Homo sapiens: one gene and its partners. The protein of the gene in region 3 purifies or fractionates together with the protein of the main gene of each other region. This does not show direct contact. Each region holds a gene or a part of one and is shown on either strand. Other genes may lie near its edges. The genes, in order: NMT1, SNAP29, ANGPTL4, DNAJB4, MKLN1 and ARMC8.

Region 1 (3,500 bases), on a different chromosome or scaffold from region 3:
AAATCTAAAGATCTGTGAAAATGAGTTTGGAGGTAGTAGGTGAAAAACCAAGGGCCTAGTCTGGAGGAGAGAGTCTAATTCTGGCACTAAGAATCTGGGGTAGAGTCAACATTTTTCCATGAACTTTGAGAGGAAATGGTTTTGGGGAGAAGCAGCAATGTGGGAAAATGCAGCACGGCACAGTAGAAAAGCATGGACTTTGGAATAATTTAAATCTGGTCTGAGGCCAGGCGCGGTGGCGCACATCTGTAATCCCAGCACTTTGGGAGGCTGAGGTGGGCAGATCGCTTGTGGTCAGGAGTTTGAGACCAGCCTGGCCAGCATAGTGAAACCTCATCTCTACTAAAAATACAAAAATTAGCTGGGCATGATGGCAGGCGCCTGTAATCCTAGCTACTTAGGAGGCTGAGGCAGGAGAATCACTTGAAAACAGGAGGCAGAGGTTGCACTGAGCTGAGATCTCTCCAGTGCACTCCAGCCTGGGCGACAGAGCAAGCCTCTGATCTCAAAATCTCATCTCAAAGCTTGGCTCTGACACTTAACAGTCCTGTGACCTTGGGAAAGGTACTTAACTCAGAGTTGTAGGGATTAATGAGATAACATCTGGAATGCACTCCTTTTCCTCCCTCCTCCTCTTTCTTCAGATCGTCCCTAACCTCCCAGCTTGCCCCTCTGCTCTTATCACATACTGTATTGTAGCTTTTATCGTAACAATAGTTATAATAACAATAAATATAACTACATGTTTGGTAATTTTTCTTAATGTGTCTGGTACCTGTCTCATCTGACAGTAAGGAGCATGTAAACAGGATTGTGTCTTCGAAATGCCTAGCACTTAGTGGGCATTAATGAGTATTTGCTGTATGAATGAATGGCAGATATTAAAGTGCCTAGCCCAGTATTAGTGGAGTTTCATCTCCCCTCACCAAGTGAGAGGATGTCAGATTTTTCTTACATACACATTTTCTCTCCCCAAATAATTCTCATTGTAAGCCTCACTACAGTTTTTATGAAATACCTACAGAGGCAGGGCATGGTGGCTCACACCTGTAATCCCAGCACTTTGGGAGGCTAAGGCGGGCGGGATCATGAGGTCAGGAGATCGAGACCATCCTGGCTAACACAGTGAAACCCCATCTCTAATAAAAATACAAAAAATTAGCCAGGTGTGGTGGCGCATGCCTGTAGTCCCAGCTACTCGGGAGGCTGAGGCAGGAGAATGGTGTGACCCTGTGAGGCGGAGCTTGCAGTGAGCCGAGATTGCGCCATTGCACTCCAGCCTGGGCGACAGAGCCAGACTCTGTCTCAAAAAAAAAAAAAAAAAAAAAGAAATACCTACAGAAACCAGGAAGCTCCAATTTGCTGTGGAGCTTTCCACTGTTGTGTGCTTTCCACTGTGTTTTGCTTCTTGAAATGTTTTTTGTCTTAATATTATTTAAAATGTTCTCAAAAATCATGTAAAAATTGACAGAGAAGTTTTCCTTTCAATGCTAGAGAGTCTAAAATGTGTAATATATAATAAAGGTTAATGATAGTTCGAGCTAACCCTTATTCTCCTGGGCCTTTTTTTTTTTTTAAAGAGACTGTGTCTCGCTATGTTGCTCAGACTAGTCTCAAACTCCTGGGTTCAAGTGATCCTCCTGCCTTAGCCTCCCAAAGTGCTGGGATTGTAAGCATGAGCCACCACACCCAGCCTCCTGCCCCTTTTTTTCAGGAACTAAAGTCATAGTACTCTATGCTAATAAAATGAGCTAAATTCATGTACTGGATTCTGTTGCCCGGGCTGGAGTGCTGTGGCGCGATCTTGGCTCACTGCAACCTCTGCCTCCCGGGTTCAAGAAATTCTCCTGCCTCAGCCTCCTGAGTAGCTGGGACTACAGGAGCACACTGCCACACCCGGCTAATTTTTCATATTTTAGTAGAGACGGGGTTTCACCGTTGTTGCCCAGGCTGGTCTTGAACTCCTGAGCTCAGGCAATCCACCTGCCTTGGCCTCCGAAAGTGCTAGGATTACAGGTGTGAGCCACCACGCCCGGCCAGTTGTATTAGTTACTTATGTCTCTTTGTATATGAATTTAGTTCTTGACTTTTCTGGTCTTGTGTTTCCTCCGTAATTAAATCAGCATAAACATTTGGTGAATATAAAACTTCATGTGGTTGTGTGTAGTGGCTCATGCCTGTAATCTCAGCACTTTGGGAGGCTGAGGCAGAAAAATCACTTGAGCTCAGGAGTTCGAGACCAGCCTGGGCAACATGGTGAGACCCCATCTCTATAAATAAAAACAAAAAAACCCAAACCCTTCATGTATACATATAGGTATACATGCATACATATGCAGTGTGTATGGGTGCGTCTCTTCAGTTTTTCTATTTAAAAATTTTTTAATTTAATTTTAAAATTATTGTTATTACTTTGGAAACAGGGCCTCGCTCTGTCGTCCAGGCTATAGTACAGTGGTGTGATCATGGCTTACTGCAGCCTTTGACCTGGGCTCAAGCGATCCTCCCACCTCAGCCTCCCAAGTAGCTAGGATTGTAGACATGCACCATCATCCCTGGCTAATTTTCTTTTTAAAAAGTTTCTGTAGAGATGGGGTCTCACTATTTAGCCCAGGCTGGTCTCAAACTGCTGGCCTCAAGTGATGCTGCCACCTTGGCCTCCCAAACTGCTGGGATTGTGGGCATAAGCTCCTGCATCCAGCTGGTTTTGTTTGTTTTTTTACTGCACTCAATTTCCCCCAGTTACGTGCCTAGCGTAATTATCCTGAACAATTGAGAGGAGAGTCAGATAAGATAACCTTTATGCAGCATCCCCCTGTAGTTCGTGATTCATCTATATGGTTTAATTTGATTTTTTTTTTTTTTTAATGAGAGTCTTTCCAAGAAGTATTGCCAAAGAATAAATCTCATCAGTTGGCAGATTTTAATTTGGGGGTAATAAGTGAAGATTGTCTGAGTGTTTTGGAACAAAAAAGAACTTTTAGACTATTGTGTTCTAGGAATCTTTCGGAATTTATTTTGCAGTGTCTTCAGTGTCATTGAGATCCTGGTAAGCACGGGTCAAGAGCCCTCTGACAAGAGGTGTCTCATCTCCATCCTGCTCTCTTACTCCCTGGGACAGGTTAACATGGATTCTTTATAAGTTCTCCTCATTTCCTGGTTGTGAGATACTATCCCTTATGAAAACTTAGGAGGAGAGAAAAGTCTTTCTGAAAATAAATTCCATAAAGCTAGCCTTACTTGTTTTTGTTTTTTTCTTCAGCTTCTCCAAGAGTCGTTCTTTCCCTATTTATTTGATGGCTTATAGCTGCAGCTAGCTCTTGGAAATAAGAAATCTTTTTAGTTCCTTTTTAATTTCTCCCTTCAACTTTTGGTTTTTCAAAACTAGATCAAAGCAGAATGGAAAGAGAAACCTCATCACTGATATCAAATAAGTGTTCTAATTTTGTTTCCCAATTAAATGGCAATTAAAAAGAAACTAATCAAGAGCTGCTTCAAAG
Region 2 (3,500 bases), on a different chromosome or scaffold from region 3:
TCCTTGGGACAATGTGGCAGCTGTGAGTGGATGTGCCCAGGAAGGAGAAGCCAGAAGCTCGAACAACCAGCCCATCCTCAGAAGGCATCCTGTTACAGCCAACAAGCCAGCAAATTGGCCTGGGATCAATGGTCTAATTCTTTTTTTTTTTTGAGACAGGGTCTCACTTTGTCACCCAGGCTGGAATACAGTGGCATGACCTCAGCTCACTGCAGCCTTGACCTCCCTGGTTCAAGAGATCCTCCTACCTCAGCCTTCTGAGTAGCTGGAACTACAGGCATGCACCGCCATGCCCAGGTAATTTTTGTATTTTTTGTAGAGCCAGGGTTTTACCACATTCCCCAGGCTGATCTTGAACTCCTGGGTTCAAGGGATCCACCTGCCTCAGCCTCCCCAAGTGCTAGGATTACAGGTGTGAGCCACCACACCTGGCCATCAATGGTCAAATTCAATCATTGATAGTTTACCAAAAATTAATTAAAAATAAATCCCGAACAGACCTAGCGGTGAGTATGTGGTCCAATGCCATTTCTCCACCAGACTCCCTCCCACCTGCTAGACACAGCCTGACATGTGTTGGGATGCATTTTCTGGTCACAGGACAGGCATTGCAACCAAGGCACACAGCTCAATGCATTCTTTCCACCCAACTCTCTCCTCCTTTTTCAGGCAATCTTCTGTTCCCTCCCTCCTTCCTTTCCTTCCCCAGGTCACTTATTCATTTGGCAACTATTTTGGGAGCGCCAATAACGCTTAAGGACATTGTGCTGAGAAGCGTGGGGGTAGAAAGTTGAGCAAGAGATGGGTAAGAGACTGCTCCTCTTCCACTGCTGACATTTACAAATTTGAGGAATTACTTAATCTAGCAGCTGCTTGTCCCCATCCATCAACTTTTGCTAAGAACTCTGGCTGCATCAGTATCACCACACGCTGCCTCAGAGGGGTGACTTTGGTCTGTACGGCCCCTCATTTGGAGTGGGCTGCTCCAAGACCAGAATCCCTGAGAATGAGGATATCACCTTTTGGCAATGTATCTACTCTAAGTTCCGGGGACACCTTGATGGCCTCTGCTCCTGGGCCAGGAGGGGTGTCCTCCTCTCTCCCACCTCTGAATGGAATGCCCAGTGTGGGTGACTGTTGTGTGCTGGAAAGACACAGAGATGGGTGGGCCCCTGCACGAGACGGTGTGGAGGATGTGCTGGCGGTGGCTGCTGAGTGCATCACGTTTGAACTCTCAAACTCTGTCCCTTTCCATTGATGTTACTGTGCCAGCCGTTCCAACCCTGGTCTAATGTTTGTTGCTGGACTCCCCTGAACCGAGATCTCGGGCCCCAGAAAACCTCAGTGGAGTTAAGTTCAGCTACAAGAGGGGAAGCAGAGTGTCCTGGGCAGGTGAGTCTCCTCCACTGGAGTGATGAAAAGGTGTACAAAAACCATGTCCAAGTAGGATGCAAATAGACTCACCAAAAGGTGTAAACAACCTCAATGCTCATCATTAGGGGACAGGCTGCATAAATAGAAGTCATTTGTTCAATGGAATACAACACAGCCAAAAAGAAAGCCCAGCTCATTACATACTAGTGTGGAACAAACTCCATTCTATTAAGCACATGCAGACCAGAATGTATACAATACTTCACTTAAAAAAAAAAACCCATTTTTATCCACGGCATTATCTCCCCAAAACACTGAAGGAGGGAAAGTGCCTGGCTGCCTTAGGGGCAGAGGGATGATAGGGAGGGAAGTGGGAGAAGACTACACCCTTTTGTATGTTTTGAAATTTTGAACCATGTGATTGGAATCTCTCTTCATAAAAATTAAACCTTAGGAAAAAAAAAAGAAGAAATCATGCTTACTAAACAGGGAAAGAGACGAGTGGCTTACAAGTCTCCCTGTAGTTCTACAAAGCGCCTACCAGGTCGGCCTGGGGAAACCGCCCTGCTCCCACTACTTCTCCTCTGTTCTTTTGTGGTCATAGCCTGTGGCCTGAGCCTTTGTGAGAAACAATCCTTGCCAGGTTTCACAGTAGGAGAAGGGCAGCTCTCTTTGCTAGAGGTGACTTAACTAAGCCATTTTCCTGCCAAGCTGGGACTGAATTATAATCTTCCCAACCTAATATAATTTGTAAAGTCCTCATCTTTGACATAAATCTGTCATGTGTTGGCATGTTTCACAGTGCTGGGGTAACCAGGCACCTAAGTTGGGTGATTAGCAGGGTATGCTGGAATTTGCTGGAAGCCACACTGTGCACTGAGGGTTGGAAGAGCTCATACTCCTCTGTTCCCATCCCAACACCAAAGGGAATGAAAGAGTGATTAGAGTGATTCAAAGACAGCTTGGAGCCTGTAATCCAGCACTGGGAGGCCAAGGTGTGCAGATCATCTGAGCTCAGGAATTCGAGACTAGCCTGGGTAACATGGCGAAAGCCCATCTCCACCAAAAATACCAAAAATTAGTCGAGTGTGGTGGCGTGCACCTGTAGTCTTGGCTACTTGGGAGGCTGTGGCAGGAGGATCACTTGCACCTGGAGGCAGAGGCTGCAGTGAGCCAAGATTGCACCACGGCACTCTAGCCTGGTTGACAGAGTGAGACCCCCATCTCAAAAAACCTCCCCCAAAACAAAACACAAAAACAAAGACAGCTTGGAGAACACTGGGTGTGGTGGAGATGTAGGTCATCCCTGACTCCCAGGGCTTCTCATAATTGAGAACTGACCCAATCCTGGAAAATTCCAACATGTTGTCTCACTGACAAGAGCACCTGTCACCTGCCCAGTCATGACCACACTGTACTTCTCACAGCAATGCCTGGCCTGGCCAAGCCTGATATGCCTGAAGTGCCACTCTGCCTCAGCTCTCACTGTCCCCACTGCATAGAAAGACCTTTGGGGGCAGCACGGGGCATGTCATCACAATCTATATCAAACTCACCACTATTACATTTTTGCCTCTCCTGCGCTATGAGACCAGAACTTTCCCTATGACCTCCAAGGGCTCCTAAGCTACCTCCTCCATCCCCTGTCCTCTAACACACCCAGTCTATCATGTCCCTCCTCTGGACCCAGGAGCTCTGTTGCTGGGCCAGTGCATTTGCATATTTTCCTGTCTTCCCTAAGAACATCCCTCATTCTCACTCCTCTTGTGTAAACCTCAGCCTTAAAAGCTAGATTCAAGTTTATCCTCTGCCACAATGCCCTACTTTGAATCATTGATTCCCTACTTCATTTGTTCTCAGTTTACAAAGATGTCTCCTTAAATAGTTGTTAGTTGAATTCCTTGGGCTTGAGATCCTCAATCATGTGACCCATTCACCAGGGCCCTAAAACCTCAGGCAATCCTCTCAAATCTAAGCCAAGACTTCCCATTTAGAATGGAACATAGGAATCCAGTAGGTATGAGATGTAAGAACTACAGGCAAAACCTCCCTAACAAGGTTAGGACCGGGCGCAGTGGCTCACATCTGTAATCCCAGCACTTTGGGAGGCTGAGGTGGGCAGATCA
Region 3 (3,500 bases):
AATCTCAGCTCACTGCAACCTCTGCCTTCGGGGCTCAAGCGATTCTTGTGCTTCAGCCCCACAAGCAGCTGGAATCACAGGCACGCCCGGCTAATGTTTATGTTGGTAGAGATAGGGTTTCACCATGTTGGCCAGGCTGGTCTTGAACTTCTGACCTCAAGTGATTTGCCCGCCTCAGCCTCCCAAAGTGCTGGCATTTCAGGTGTAAGCCACCGTGCTCAGCCTTTGTTTTTTTTTAGAAACGAGGTTTTGTTGTGTTGCCCAGGTTGGAGTGCGGTGGCTATTCACAGGTGTGATCACGGCTCACGGCAGCCTTTAACTCCTGGGCTGAAGTGACCCTCCTGCCTTGGCCTCCCGAGTAGCTGGGACTACAGGCATGTGCCACCATGCCCAGCAAGGGCTGAATTTTATTTTATTTTATTTTATTTTCTCTTTTTTATTTTTTTGATGGGGGGACGGAGTCTCGCTCTGTCGCCCAGGCTGGAGTGCGGTGGCGTCATCTCAGCTCACTGCAACCTCTGCCTCCCAGGTTCAAGAGATTCTCCTGCCTCAGCCACCTGAGTAGCTGGGATTACAGGTGCACACCACCATGCCCGGCTAATTTTTGTATTTTTAGTAGAGACGGGGTTTCACCATGTTGGTCAGGCTGGTCTCGAACTCCTGACCTCGTGATCTGTCTGCCTCAACCTCCCAAAGTGCTGGGATTACAGGTGTGAGCCACTGCACTTGGCCTTTTTTTTTACTTTTACAAAATTTTTTGTAAAGATGAGCTCTCACTATGTTGTCCAGGCTGGTCTCGAACTTCTGGGCTCAAGTGATCCTCATGATAGGCCTCCCAAAGTGTCGGGATTACAGATATGAGCCACTACACCCAGACAAGGGCTGCATTTTAAAGAAAAGAGGCCAGGAGCAGTGGCTAATGCCTATAATCCCAGCATTTTGGGAGGCCAAAGTCGGCAAATCATTTGAGGTCAGGAGTTTGAGACCAGCCAGACCAACATGGTGAAACCCAGTCTCTACTAAAAATACAAAAATTAGCTGGGTGTGGTTGCTCGCACCTGTAGTCTCAGCTACTGGGGAGGCTGACGCTGGAGAATTGCTTGAACCCGGGAGGCGGAGGTTTCAGTGAGCTGAGATCGTGGCATTGCACTCCAGCTCCAAGAGCAAAACTCCATCTCAAAAAAAAAAAAAAAAAAAAAGACCAGCTTGGGCAACATAGCAAGACCCTGCCTTTAATTTTTTTGTTTTGTTTTGTTTTCAATTTAAAGAAAGACAACAGGGCCTATGGGGAGAGGGGCCCCTGGTGGACTAACACACCCTACCTGAGGTCATCTTGCAGTTCACCAAAAATGGCGGAGACCCCTGAGGCTGGATTTCAAATAGTCCACTCTGCCTCTCCCCAACCTGGAACAGCTCCTGGCAATCCCTGGGCAGCCCTGAAGGGAGATAAAGTGGAGACTTGAAACAGGAGGGCAGCCCCTGGGGGGGGTCTCAGGAGCCAGGCATATCTGGGGGCTTAACAGTGGATGACCAGGGAAGTAAAAGGCAAATCTTATCTCATGACCACCTCTCTGCCATCTGCCTAACCTCTTCCATGGCTCCCTATGTCCTTCCTCAGCATGGTCCACAAGGCACCTGGAGGACCAGCCCCCGTGCCCATCCTCCTCCTGCCATGCTGTACCCACACCCTCTCTGGCACACAGGCTTTCTTCCCACCCTTGTACCACACACCGTCCTGCCACAGGGACTTTGCACATGCTGTTCCCCCTGCCTGGGACTCTCTTTTTTTGTTTTGTTTTTTGATACGGAGTCTCGCTCTGTCGCCAGGCTGGAGTGCAGTGGCGCAATCTTGGCTCACTGCAACCTCCGCCTCCCAGGTTCAAGCAATTCTGCCGCAGCCTCCGGAGCAGCTGGGACTACAGGCATGTGCCACCACGCCCGACTAGTTTTTGCATTATTTGTAGAGACGGGGGTTTCACCATGTTGGCCAGACTGGTCTCGATCTCCTGACCTCGTGATCCGCCAGCCTTGGCCTCCCAAAGTGCTGGGATTACAGGTGTGAACCACTGCGCCCGGCGGGACTCTCTTTCCTCACTTCTCTCTCTGGGTCCCAGCTTCTGGAAGGACACCCTGCCTTGCCTCACCCCCAGACCAGGCCAGAACACCCCAAATGGGAATTGAGCAAGGACTTCCCACTCCTGGACACTGAGGTCATCTAATGGTCTCTCCTCTGACTCAATGGAGGCTCCATGAGGCTGGGGACAAGGAGCAGCTCTGCCCACAGCCTGGCACCAGCATCCACGCAGGCCCCAGCGCATAGCAGCTGCTCAATAAAGACTTGAGGAATGGGCCGGGCGCAGTGGTTCATGCCTGTAATCCAGCACTTTGGGAGGCGGGCGGATCGGTCAGGAGTTTGAGACCAGCCTGGTCAACATGGCCAAACCCCATCTCTAGTAAAACATACAAAGATTAGCTGGGTGTGATGGTGGACGCCAGTAATCCCAGCTCCTTAGGAGGCAGAGGCAGGAGAATCACTTGAACCCGGGAGGCAGAGGTTGCAGTCAGCTGAGGTTGAACCATTGCACTCCAACCTGGGTGACAGAGTGAGACTCTGTCTCAAAAAAAAAAAAGACTTGATAAATGAATAAAAATTAGCTGGGCGTGGTGGCGGTAGGCGCCTATAATCCCATCTACTTGAGAGGCTGAGGCAGGAGAATCACTTGAACCCAGTGGGAGGCAGAGGTTGCAGTGAGCTGAGATTGCGCCACTGCACTCCAGCCTGGACAACAGAGCGAGACTCCGTCTCAAAAAGCAAACAAAACAGTCTTGACAAATGAATGAATGAATGAATGAATGAGGCAGCAGGTCCAGAACGGGAAGAACTGTGCTGAGCAGGAGCATCTCAGAGGCTCTGCCTGGGGTCCCAGCTCCTAGAGGGAGAGGAGGCAGGGTTGAGGAAAGAAAGAGGGAGGGAGGAGGGGAGGATGGCGTTGAGCACGTCTGGAGGCTCAGACGCTCCAGACTGGGAGGAACCGCCCCCAGCCCAGCCGGAAAAGTAGGGGAAAGGTCGAAATGAGTCTGCACGGTGGGGGTGGGGGCGGGCCCAGAGTGACCAGGAAGACGCTTTCCGGCCCCTCAGGCATCTCCCCTTTCCCCTACTTTCCTCCCATCCAGTAAGGATGGGCACGCGGCCAAACCACCAGTGTGGCTTCCATGAATGCCAGCTGTTCGCCTTCCCAGCTCTGAACTTTCTCCTACTTGGCGGGCCTGAGCCAAGAGTCTGGGAGTCCCGAACCCACAGAACCCCTGCCCCCTTCCACCGCATTTCCCAGCCAGGACTTGTGCCTTCCCCCGTCACCCTCCAGAAGCCCCTCATCCTGGGATGGTGGCTTTGGGAGGGTGGACAGGACCCTGACCACGCTGAGATGCTAGCCTGGCGGGGTTGGGGGCGGGCAGCACGGAGGTGGGAAGGAGCGGGAGCTTGGGGAGGAGAGAACCCT
Region 4 (3,526 bases), on a different chromosome or scaffold from region 3:
CTCTATGGAACACTATTGTTTCTTACCCTGCTCTAATACCTACCTGCTACTGCCCAATGCTTAGTTCAAGCATCCTCTACTCCCGGAATCTAAGGGGTTAAGTTGGGTGCTCTTTCTCTTACAAAAGACCTCCATGCTTACCTCTGTTCTTACACTATACAGTATTATAATGGCTAGTTTGCTTCTATGTTTCTGTGAGTTCCTTGTGCATTCCTTGAGCTGGGGTCTGTGTTCATGGTCCCTATAAGGCTCACCATCTAGCCAGAATGTGTGGCATATAGTAAATGCTCAGTAAACATTTGTTATCTAAAACAAATATATTTCTTGTCCTAATACTTTCCAGAGAAATAGTTGCTCCTATCCAGTTCTTTCTAGTCCTGAATTTCTCCCTCTTCTCCCATTCCAATCCCTGCATCTTGAATATATTAATAGCAGCTTCAAAATAACCATGTCATTCCAGGGCAATGTGGAATATATCCTTTACTTCTCTTTTACCTTTTCTTTTCTTCTTCTTTTTTTTTTTTTTTTGTAACATATCTAATAATGCATGTCCTGAAGGAATTTTCCTTTTTTTCTTTTCTTTTCTTTTTCTTTTTCTTTCTTTCTTTCTTCTTTTTTTTTTTTTTTTTTGAGACAGTTTTGCTCTTGTTGCCCAGGCTGGAGTGCAATGGCACGATCTCGGCTCACTGCAACCTCCGCCTGCTGAGTTCAAGTGATTCTCCTGCCTCAGCTTCCCGAGTAGCTGGGATTACAGGCATGTGCCACCACGCTCGCCTAATTTTGTATTTTTAGTAGAGACAAGATTTCTCCATGTTGGTGAGGCTGGTCTTGAACTCCTGACCTCAGGTGATCTGCCCGCCTTGGCCTCCCAAAATGTTGAGATTACAGGTGTGAGCCACCGTGCCTGACCTCTGAAGGAATTTTCTAATGAGGAAAAAAAATTTATAACTATTGTTATTCTTTTGGAGGTTAAAGTTTTACCTTAGTGGTATTATCCTTTACCATCTGGTAAAATTTGTGCTTAGATTTTTGAGTTTTGAAGTGTTTTCATTTTATTTTATTTGGTCCATTTTAGGCATTGTGTGGCTGCTCAATTAATGTACCAACACTGGATGGAAGAAACATACCTATGTCAGTAAATGATATTGTGAAACCCGGAATGAGGAGAAGAATTATTGGATATGGGCTGCCATTTCCAAAAAATCCTGACCAACGTGGTGACCTTCTAATAGAATTTGAGGTGTCCTTCCCAGATACTATATCTTCTTCATCCAAAGAAGTACTTAGGAAACATCTTCCTGCCTCATAGAATGAAGAACTTTGTTACACATATTTTGATAAGGCACTGAAAATATAAAAGGACTGGTAGTTTACTGATGTAGATGTGAATTCTGTATAAAGATGTGTAAATTCTTTTGAGGGTTCATTAAATTGCATGAATAGAGACGGGTCAAATAAATAGGCAAAAGGGATTTTTACAGTTAGAGATAAAAGAGAAAACCATTCACTGTATTTTATTTCATTTCTCCTGATTCAGATATTTTTAGTAATTTGCTTATATGTAAAAGTTGTTTTTGTGGAGTCAGTGGATATATTTCTAATGAAGTGCTAGACTATCCAATTACTTAATTTCTTATACCTTTAGATAATCAGTATGAAAAGTTCCCATTTATAATGGAAATGAAAATTCTTAACTAAACTATACATGTAATATGTATTTCTAGAAGAGAATAAAAACCCAAGTCAGTTATTAGATTTAAATCACCTTCTGAAATGCTGCTATAGGGCTGGTATCTGTAAAAGAATATCCTGATGCATCTGTTTCACCATTTTGATTTTTAAAGTATGCTGTAGCATTTCTTAATAACATCGTTGTGATGTTCTTAAGGCAGATCTTTCTTCATAAAAAGGAAAGTAATGGCAATTTCTCTCCTGTGGAAATCCCAATTGCTTGAATTACTGATATTTTAGAATAGACTTTTTAAAATGCCATATGTAATTTTATGCAAGTTGACTATATATCTTGTACTTAATAAATTATAGGCTCATTTTGTTCTCTGCTAGTTTAAAGTAATTCGTTTAATAATAGATGTGTTTTTAGAGGAAATGCTGTTACTTGGAATTAATTTTCCAGTTATACAGTCTTCTATAACTTACTAATAATATTCTATATGTACTTTATGTAATTTCCCTAAAAAGAATGAACTACCACTACACTATGGTGTTAAACCAAAATATAGGGAAAATAAACACTAACTGCTGCTTATGGATAATGTTGCAACTACTTGTTATGCATATAAATATTTTACTTTTTCACATGTATAGATTGCATTTCTTAGGTGTTTTAATTTTTTAAATATATTTATGTTTTAAAAATTTAGTTTTGTTTTCTGTTTTATAACTATAGTGAGAATGATGTTTTGAAGCAAAATTTTTGGTTATAAAATAGTTTTCAGGATTATATATATATATACTGGATCCTATCGCCTTTTAGTAGAATATGAAATATTCTTTTAGAAATCCAATATAAATAGGTTATAATAGCCATATTCTTTATTACTTTATTGAGATATAATTTACATGCCATAAAGTTTACCCTTAAAATATATAATTCAGTGGTTTTTAGTGATATTTACAAAGTGGTACAATCATCATCACTTTCTAATTCCAGAATATTTTCATCACCCCAAAAAGAAATCCTAAATCCATTAGCAGTTACTTCCCATTCTTCCCTTCCTCCAGCCCCTGAAAACACTACCATCTACTTTTCATCTGTATGGATTTGTCTGTTCTGGACATTTCACATAAATAGACTCAAACAATATATGGCTTTTTTTTTTTTTGGTCTGGCCTCTTTCATTTAGCTTAATGTTTTCAAGGTTCATCTATGTTGTATCACGTATCAGTACTTTATTTTTTGTGTGGCACGTCATATGGATATACCACAATTTGTTTATCTTTTCATTAATTATGGGCATTTGGCTTATTTCTACTTTTTTGGCTATTATAAATAATGCTGCTGTGAACATTTGTGTGCAAGTTTTTGTGTTTCAATTCTCATGGGTATATACCTAAAAGTGGAATTTCTGGGAGTAACCATATATTTGAGTTGCAAATGGAAAATGCTTGAAAAAAATGCCACAGAATTCAGCTAATCGTATTTATTACTCTAATTCATAAATGATTCCTCTATAACTGTCTCTCTGAATGACAGTTAAAACTCCCTACAGAAGTGTGAACATTACAGAAATTTTCTCACAAGTCTAAAGATCTAGATCTGAAAAGCATCAGTCAACGTGGTGAATGATAGTGGTTTCTGTTTTAAACCCATCATTATTTATTGCAATTTTCTTGATTAAGCATTTTCTCCCAGGTAAAATAAATGATTTATAGATAGATATATAATAATCTTTGGATTAAAAAGTTTTTTTAAGCAGAGAATTATTATTCTAGTAGTAAATAAATTTACATAACTACACAAAACCAGTATACCAGTATCTCTCTTATCTTAAAGGATATTGACAAT
Region 5 (3,500 bases), on a different chromosome or scaffold from region 3:
TGTGTTTTTCAGTCTGGGACTCTTAGAACTTCAGAAAAATAAAAACACTCAAGATGGAAGAAATGTACTCAGGATGAGAATTTGAGTCTACAGAGCTGATTCCTAGAATTAGATATTTGTGACTTTTGGCAAGTTATGATTCTTTTCTGAGCGTCAGTTTCTTGTGTAGAAATACTTTTTATCTTGATCAAATGTTGAGAGGTTTATGTACAATTTTTTGGGCACATGGGTAAATGGTTCTATTATTTGCGTTAACTTTTAGGTAAATATTTAAATAGATTTTTAATAAATGATTTTTGGCCTGATACAAAGACTTTGTGATGTTTTACGTGTAGATAAGATACATTTCAGCCACTTGTGGCAATGAGTTTGCTGTATTTCAGTCATTCAAAAATCGTTTTTGGAAATATGAAAGATTTTCTAGACTTTAATTTTAGAGATACAGCTATTTATAGACATTTTAATATGTATAAAATGTTTCAAAGAATGTACAGTTGAGAATTTAGAGATCCCTAATTACTGTTTGTTTATAATACCATTTGTCAGAAATCTCTGATAAGAGACAATAGAAAATTTATAAAATTTCTAGGTCTTTATAGGTTCAATCTTAGGATAGTTGATCCGGGTATCTTCTCTGCTACCGGATTTCCCAGGGCTTGTTTTGTGAATGGCTGGTTCTGTAGATTGTTGCTTATTAAGGGGTGGTCAGATAAAGCTCTGAGAAGTCCAGCAGTATTAAAATCTATTAATATGGGGGACTTTTGAAGAAAATATTTTTTAACATCTTTGCACATTGGGAAGATGTTTCAGTTAGAAAATTTTTTTGTTGTTGTTTAATGAGAACTTCAGGACTTGGTTACGAATATTTCTAAAAATCTGTGAAGTCAAAGTAACATTCTGTAGAATACTGTGTATGTATATTTATGCTGTAGATAAACAAAGATATTGTTTGTTTAATGGGTTTTGCTTATGATGAAATTTTACTGATTAAGATTAATCCATGTTTAAAAAAGTATACAAAGAGAAAGGAAATATCATAGTCATTATCTAGGAATAATTTAAGTAGTCTAATATAAATCTGTCCCTAAAAAAGTTGTTGAATGGCAGCTAACTAGATTGAAGTACCCTAACATAACTTATATTTTGAATTGGTTGTTAATAATAATTGGAAAACTAGGCTATGTTTAGTCCTAAGACTATAGGGTTTCCTCTCAACACATTTTAGCTGTATCCCACAAATTGTGGTATGTTACATGTTCATTATCATTTATGCAAAAATGTTTTTCAGATTTTATTTTGGCTTATTCTTTGACCTGTAGGTTTTTTTTTTTTTTTAACAAATGTATTGCTTACTTTTTGAACGTTTGGGGATTTGCTAGTTATCTTTCTGTTACTAATTTCTTAATTTCACTATGATTAGAGAACACACTCTGAATAGTTTCAGACCTTTATTGATACTTATTTTATGGCTCAGCATTTTTATAAATGTTTATGTACCCTTGAAAAGACTATGCATTCTGCTGTTAACTACTGTCTTCTATGTACTTTGTTAAGTTCAAGTTTGTAAATTGTGTTATTGTGTTGTACAAATCTTCTCTATCCTTACTGAATTTTTTTTTTTTTGCCTTTTTTTCTATTCATTACAGAGAGAGGTGTCTTGAGGTTAAGTGTCAAATGTGTCTTACTGTGATTGTGGATTTGTATATTTCTCCTTTTAGTTCTATAAAGAACTAAACTGTATGCTTTATGTATTTTGAAGTCATATTACTAGGCACATACAAACTTATCTTTCTAGTACATTGGCTCTTTATCATTATAACATGTCCCTTTTTATCTCTAGTAACACTTGTCTCTCGCCTCAAAGTCTTCTTAGCTACACCTGCTTTATTTTGGCTGCTGTTTGCTTGCATGGTAAAACTTTCTCTCTCCTTTTTGCTTTTAATGCTCCTGTAGCTTTATATTTGGGGTCTGTTTCTTGTTAAGAATAAACAGATTTTTGTTTGCCTGTTTTTAATTAAATCTGAAATATATTTAGCTCATTAATGGTAAATATAATTATTGATAAATTTGGGTTTATGTCTGTCATTTTATTGTTTTCTGTTTGTCCTACTTGTTCTATATTCTATTTTCTCTCCATTGTTGCCTTCTTTTGGATTAATCAAGTGTTTTAAAAATATTATTTTATTCCTCCCTTTGTTAGCTTGTTAGTTATATATTCTGTTACTGTTCTTTTGGTGGTTACGCTAGATCACCACAAGCTTTCTTGTGGTACATTAGAGTTGCATATTCATTAGGATTTTGAAAAACAACATCTCAGACATTGTTAGGACCCTAGAAAACTTTAATAGCATTTATCACTCTCCTGCTTTTATGTTGTCATTGTCATGCATTTCACGTCTACATTTAAATCCAGAGACTGTTGTTTTGTACAGTTAATATTTACCCTTTCCATTGTTCTTTATTTCCTTTTGTATTTACATGCTTCCATCTGAGATTAATTTTCCTCTGTCTGAAGAACTCCTTTTAGGGAGTTTGGTGGTACTGAATTCTCAGTTTTTGCTTGTTTGAAATTTATTTATTTTCATCTTTGAAGAATATATTAAATGACTGTACAGTTCTACATTATTAGCTGTTATTTTCTTGAAGCACTTTAAAGATCTCAGTTCATTGTCTTCTAGCTTCCATTGTTTCTGTTGCAAAATCAGCCGTCAGACTTACTGTTGCTTCTTGGAAGGTAGTATGACTTTCTTGTTCAGCTGCCTTTCTTTTTGTCATTCTCTTTTTCTTTAAGTTTAAACAGCTTTCAGTGATGCACCTAAGAATGGTTTTGTTTGTACCCTGTTTGGCGTTTCTGGCACCTCTTGAATTTGTAGTATGACTGATCAGCTGTGAAAAAATTTTGACTTTTTAAAAATATTGTTTCTGCCCCATTTTTGTCTCCTTTGCTCTGTGACTCCAATTAAATCTTTATTATACTTTTTATCCCCCATATGTCTCCTGCTCTCTTCTGTTATTTTTATGATTTTTTTCCTCCTCTTATCCGTTCTGGATAGTTTTTACTTGACTGTATTTCAGTTCACTTATTCTGAATTTAACTATGTCCAATCTGCTTTTTAACCCCATCTATTCTTAATTTTAGTTATAGTATTTTTTAGTTTTAGAATTATTTCATCCTCTCTTTTTAAGATAGATTCTAATTATGTGAAAATCTCTTGTCATGTATTTTTTGAGCATATTAATCAAATTGCTTTAAAGTCTGTGTCTGAAAACTTCAATATCTGTATCACCTATAGGCCTATTTCCATCATCTCTTTCCTTTTGATTTTGCATCTTGTTAGGCCAAATAATAATAATAGTTAATATATTTGTATATTAATGTATGTTAATTATATATTCTATTGTATATTATATAAATTATTACATGTGGATAATAACATAATAGTAATAATTATTATTAGGCAATTTTTTGATGGAGTGCCAGACATTATATGCAGAATTTT
Region 6 (3,500 bases), on a different chromosome or scaffold from region 3:
GTTGTTCATTTGGCTTTTAACTTTGAAAATAAAGCAAACTATTAAGGGTATATCTTTACTCTGTCTTAAGAAGGGCCTAAAATAACCTTCACTGGTATTTGTATTAGTAATGTACTCTACTCTCTGGGTATTAAACTTATGTGTCTGCTCTTCTTTCAGTAGTGGTGTTTTTCCAGTAGAAGTGATGGGTTACATACATTTAACCAGTTGCCTTGTCTGTTTTCCTTCTGGTCATTTTTTCACACTGACACTGTATCTTACCAATACAAAGATACATGAGCAACCCTTAGCTACTGCCTCATGAACGCCCTGAGTTGACCACCCCAGGAAGGCAAATAAAATGTTTTGATGGCCATGAGAGTAAGGAAACAATTTTAAGAACATGTAGCCTATGCATATGCAAATCATTTAACTAGTACGTAGATTATCCCTTCTGTTAGTTTTTCCATTTCATTTCCATCAGAGTAAAACTGTAACAACAATAATCCTTAAAAATGACATCGTAATACCAAACTTGAGTAATAGTTTGTTTTGTCATCTTTATTTTTGATGATGGATTATCCAAAGGTTTCTGACCCGAAAAGTATAGACACTAGACCCGTAAAGAGAAATCTTCACATGTTAATAAATTTGTGATTTTCATGATATGTTAGTTCAAGTCAGTATTATATCTTAATTTATGACTAGAATGTAGTTAAGACTTTAAGAGTAGATACTTTTAGAACTTATCAAAGTGAGTATTCTGTATTGGGAAGTTCTTCCTATAATCCATCAGTGTCTGCTTTGAACAGAAGTTTTGGAACTATTAAGAATTGCCTTCAGAGCCACCCCAAATTATATATATATGTAAAATATATATATTGTCTTTTGCTTTCTGTGGAATTTTTTGTTACCTACGTTATATTACCCAACTGAATTTCTCCATCTTCACACACAGTCAGTGACAACTAAAAGTCTCATCATTGATCAAGCTATACCACTGTCAGTGTTTTCTAGCTAATAATACCAGTTAGCTCTTTAGGAAGTTTCAAAAGAGGGTCTCAGAATGTTATGAACAACACCTACATCATTGGATGAGTGAACCTTTCCAAAGTAACTTCTTTGGGAAAAGTGGTATTCATTTGGATGATTACATTAAGGCTTTTAGTTACGAGGTTATTTATATTATTGGTAGACTTTGTATAGTTACTTGGTCATAGTCAGTCATTGAAAGTATCCTGAAAATATGCTTCTGTTTTATCTTTACAGTAGTTTGGTGATCAAGTTTATAGAAGAGTTGATAATTAGTTATGCATGTTTAAAGATACCATTAATTGCTTCATGCTGATAATTTTGATAATGTTCTTGAAAAAACCCATACCCAACATAAATCTCAGATAACTGTAATAGATAATAATGGTTACCATAGTATACGGTTTGTTAAGCATTTTCACAATGGGTTCTCTGTTTCTAAAAGCTTTTTATTTTATTTATTTTTATTTATTTATTTATTTTTGAGATGTAGTCTCGCTCTGTTGCCCAGGCTAGAGTGCAGTGGCGCGATCTCGGCTCACTACAACCTCTGCCTCCTGGGTTCACACCATTCTCCCGCCTCAGCCTCCCAAGTAGCTGGGACTACAGGCGCCTGCCACCACGCCCAGCTCATTTTTTTGTATTTTTAGTAGAGACAGGGTTTTATCGTGTTAGCCAGGATGGTCTAGATCTCCTGACCTCATGATCCATCTGCCTCGGCCTCCCAAAGTGCTGGGATTACAGGCGTGAGCCACCGCGCCCGGCCTCTAAAAGCTTTTTAAATGCCAAAATTAGGCCAGCACTACTCTTAATGTTTCAGAAAATTAAGGGAACCCTCCTAAAGACATTGTTGCGATTTCATTCAGGTTATCAGCTGTAGTCTGGGGCTAGAGAAGTCCAGGTGTGCCTTCTTTTGAAGGAGAACATTTCAAAGAGCTGCTGCAAGCAAGCATTAGTGCCAGTAAAGCTACCATTTAGGAACACTGAATTTTTCGGAGTCAGAGATTCACAATGGTTTTTCATATATCAGTGTCAAATATAGTGTTCACTTTTAAATGGAAGCATATTGTGTGCATTTTAGGTCACATTGATACGAACACTGCAAAGTCTCAGTGCTATGTGAACAGAATCCAAAAATAACTGGGAAATGTAGTTAATGACTGGGAAATTCACTAAAATCTAAAAGTTGTAAACTTTTTTTTTCTTCAACTCAGTTAATGTTATTGAAAGTTGAATTTATGGACTGAGTTGGAACATATCCTTTTTTTCCCCATAGCTTGATCATGATTTAAAACATGCTCACGAACTCCGCCAGGCTGCATTCAAGCTCTATGCCTCTCTTGGAGCAAATGATGAAGACATCCGGAAGAAGGTGAGTCTGGGAGAGGGGCGTCCCCCAGTCCTGACAGCCAGCAGGCAGGGAGTGACGTCAACCTGAAAGTCGTGGTGAAGAGCACTAACAGTGACTGTTTGAATATAATAAAGCAGAGTGACTAAAGGCATAATTGAAGAATGAATGGGACCCGGATTTGGGGGGTTGTTTGTTTGTTTTTAGAACATAGAGTGGCATGGCCGTGCTGGAATGACAAATAACTGGCGTGCTTTTTTTTTGTGTCATTAATATGAATTATTATGTTGCACATTTTTGCATGTGTTCTGATAAAAATCAATTCTAGCACTGTGAAGCTTCAGACACCTTGAAAGTCCTAACATTAGAATTGTAAATGTTATTTATGGAAATACCTTCCAATGCTATTGAGAAATTCAAATCTCTATTGTATATTGTTCTTTGATATGTGGCTTAGTTTTATGTTTTGATTTTTTTTGCTACTGTGCAAGTTTAATGTGAATAAAATCTTTGTGGAATGATGATTTTATGTTTAGTGAGTGGTCATCTGAATTTTCCAGCTCCCCAGAAAATGTATGCACTGGTATAGCACCCTTATGTTACTAAAGCCTAGTCTAACACTGAACTCATGTTCTTGATGAGAATACTTCTAGATGAGGAGTATAGTGGTAAGTAAGCTCTGACTTGGCTCCTTCCACAAACCAAAAAGCTGGAACTTACCACTCAAAAACATGTATAACCTAATAAATTCTACACAAGGCTTTCAAGACCATCAGAGAGCAAAACCACATGTTCTGTCTTGAGGAGCCATAGCAGAAAGAGCAAATTAGTCATTATTTACTGAACATGATGATTTACTAAATCTCTCCATCTGCATTAGTATTTTAAGGAGCACTGTGAGAGAAATCACAAAGTATTAGAGTTTACCATGATTCAGAGAAGTTCTTCAGGCCTGTAGAAAGAGGAGTATGGAACAACCTTACATTTGTTGAAATAACTTGAAAAGGAACCATTTCTTGAAGAAACTGAAGTAATAGCAATAAGATTTGATGTGTGAGTAGCTTTGATTTAAAATCAATGCAAAAAGCACAACTAATAAATTGAATGTTTCCATGTACCTCACTTTATTTCAGTTAACAAG

The links.
Region 1: the proteins of ANGPTL4 (region 3) and NMT1 purify together in Homo sapiens (affinity purification with mass spectrometry; 2 studies listed by BioGRID and IntAct, with this or other methods). This does not show direct contact.
Region 2: the proteins of ANGPTL4 (region 3) and SNAP29 purify together in Homo sapiens (affinity purification with mass spectrometry; one large-scale study listed by BioGRID and IntAct). This does not show direct contact.
Region 4: the proteins of ANGPTL4 (region 3) and DNAJB4 purify together in Homo sapiens (affinity purification with mass spectrometry; one large-scale study listed by BioGRID and IntAct). This does not show direct contact.
Region 5: the proteins of ANGPTL4 (region 3) and MKLN1 purify together in Homo sapiens (affinity purification with mass spectrometry; one large-scale study listed by BioGRID and IntAct). This does not show direct contact.
Region 6: the proteins of ANGPTL4 (region 3) and ARMC8 purify together in Homo sapiens (affinity purification with mass spectrometry; 2 studies listed by BioGRID and IntAct, with this or other methods). This does not show direct contact.

The regions. Positions count from the first base shown.
Region 1 is NC_000017.11:45,064,317-45,067,816, forward strand, and holds part of NMT1 (glycylpeptide N-tetradecanoyltransferase 1), read left to right. Parts: intron 1-3,500.
Region 2 is NC_000022.11:20,862,007-20,865,506, reverse strand, and holds part of SNAP29 (synaptosomal-associated protein 29), read right to left. Parts: intron 1-3,500. UniProt on the Homo sapiens protein: SNAREs, soluble N-ethylmaleimide-sensitive factor-attachment protein receptors, are essential proteins for fusion of cellular membranes.
Region 3 is NC_000019.10:8,367,155-8,370,654, reverse strand, and holds part of ANGPTL4 (angiopoietin-related protein 4 isoform a precursor), read right to left. Parts: intron 1,437-3,500; coding exon 1,323-1,436; intron 1-1,322. UniProt on the Homo sapiens protein: Mediates inactivation of the lipoprotein lipase LPL, and thereby plays a role in the regulation of triglyceride clearance from the blood serum and in lipid metabolism. May also play a role in regulating glucose homeostasis and insulin sensitivity.
Region 4 is NC_000001.11:78,014,939-78,018,464, forward strand, and holds the end of DNAJB4 (dnaJ homolog subfamily B member 4), read left to right. Parts: intron 1-1,075; coding exon 1,076-1,309; 3' UTR 1,310-3,026; downstream 3,027-3,526. UniProt on the Homo sapiens protein: Probable chaperone. Stimulates ATP hydrolysis and the folding of unfolded proteins mediated by HSPA1A/B (in vitro).
Region 5 is NC_000007.14:131,334,376-131,337,875, forward strand, and holds part of MKLN1 (muskelin), read left to right. Parts: intron 1-3,500. UniProt on the Homo sapiens protein: Component of the CTLH E3 ubiquitin-protein ligase complex that selectively accepts ubiquitin from UBE2H and mediates ubiquitination and subsequent proteasomal degradation of the transcription factor HBP1.
Region 6 is NC_000003.12:138,242,801-138,246,300, forward strand, and holds part of ARMC8 (armadillo repeat-containing protein 8), read left to right. Parts: intron 1-2,287; coding exon 2,288-2,383; coding exon of another isoform or gene 2,384-2,449; exon of another isoform or gene 2,450-3,500. UniProt on the Homo sapiens protein: Component of the CTLH E3 ubiquitin-protein ligase complex that selectively accepts ubiquitin from UBE2H and mediates ubiquitination and subsequent proteasomal degradation of the transcription factor HBP1.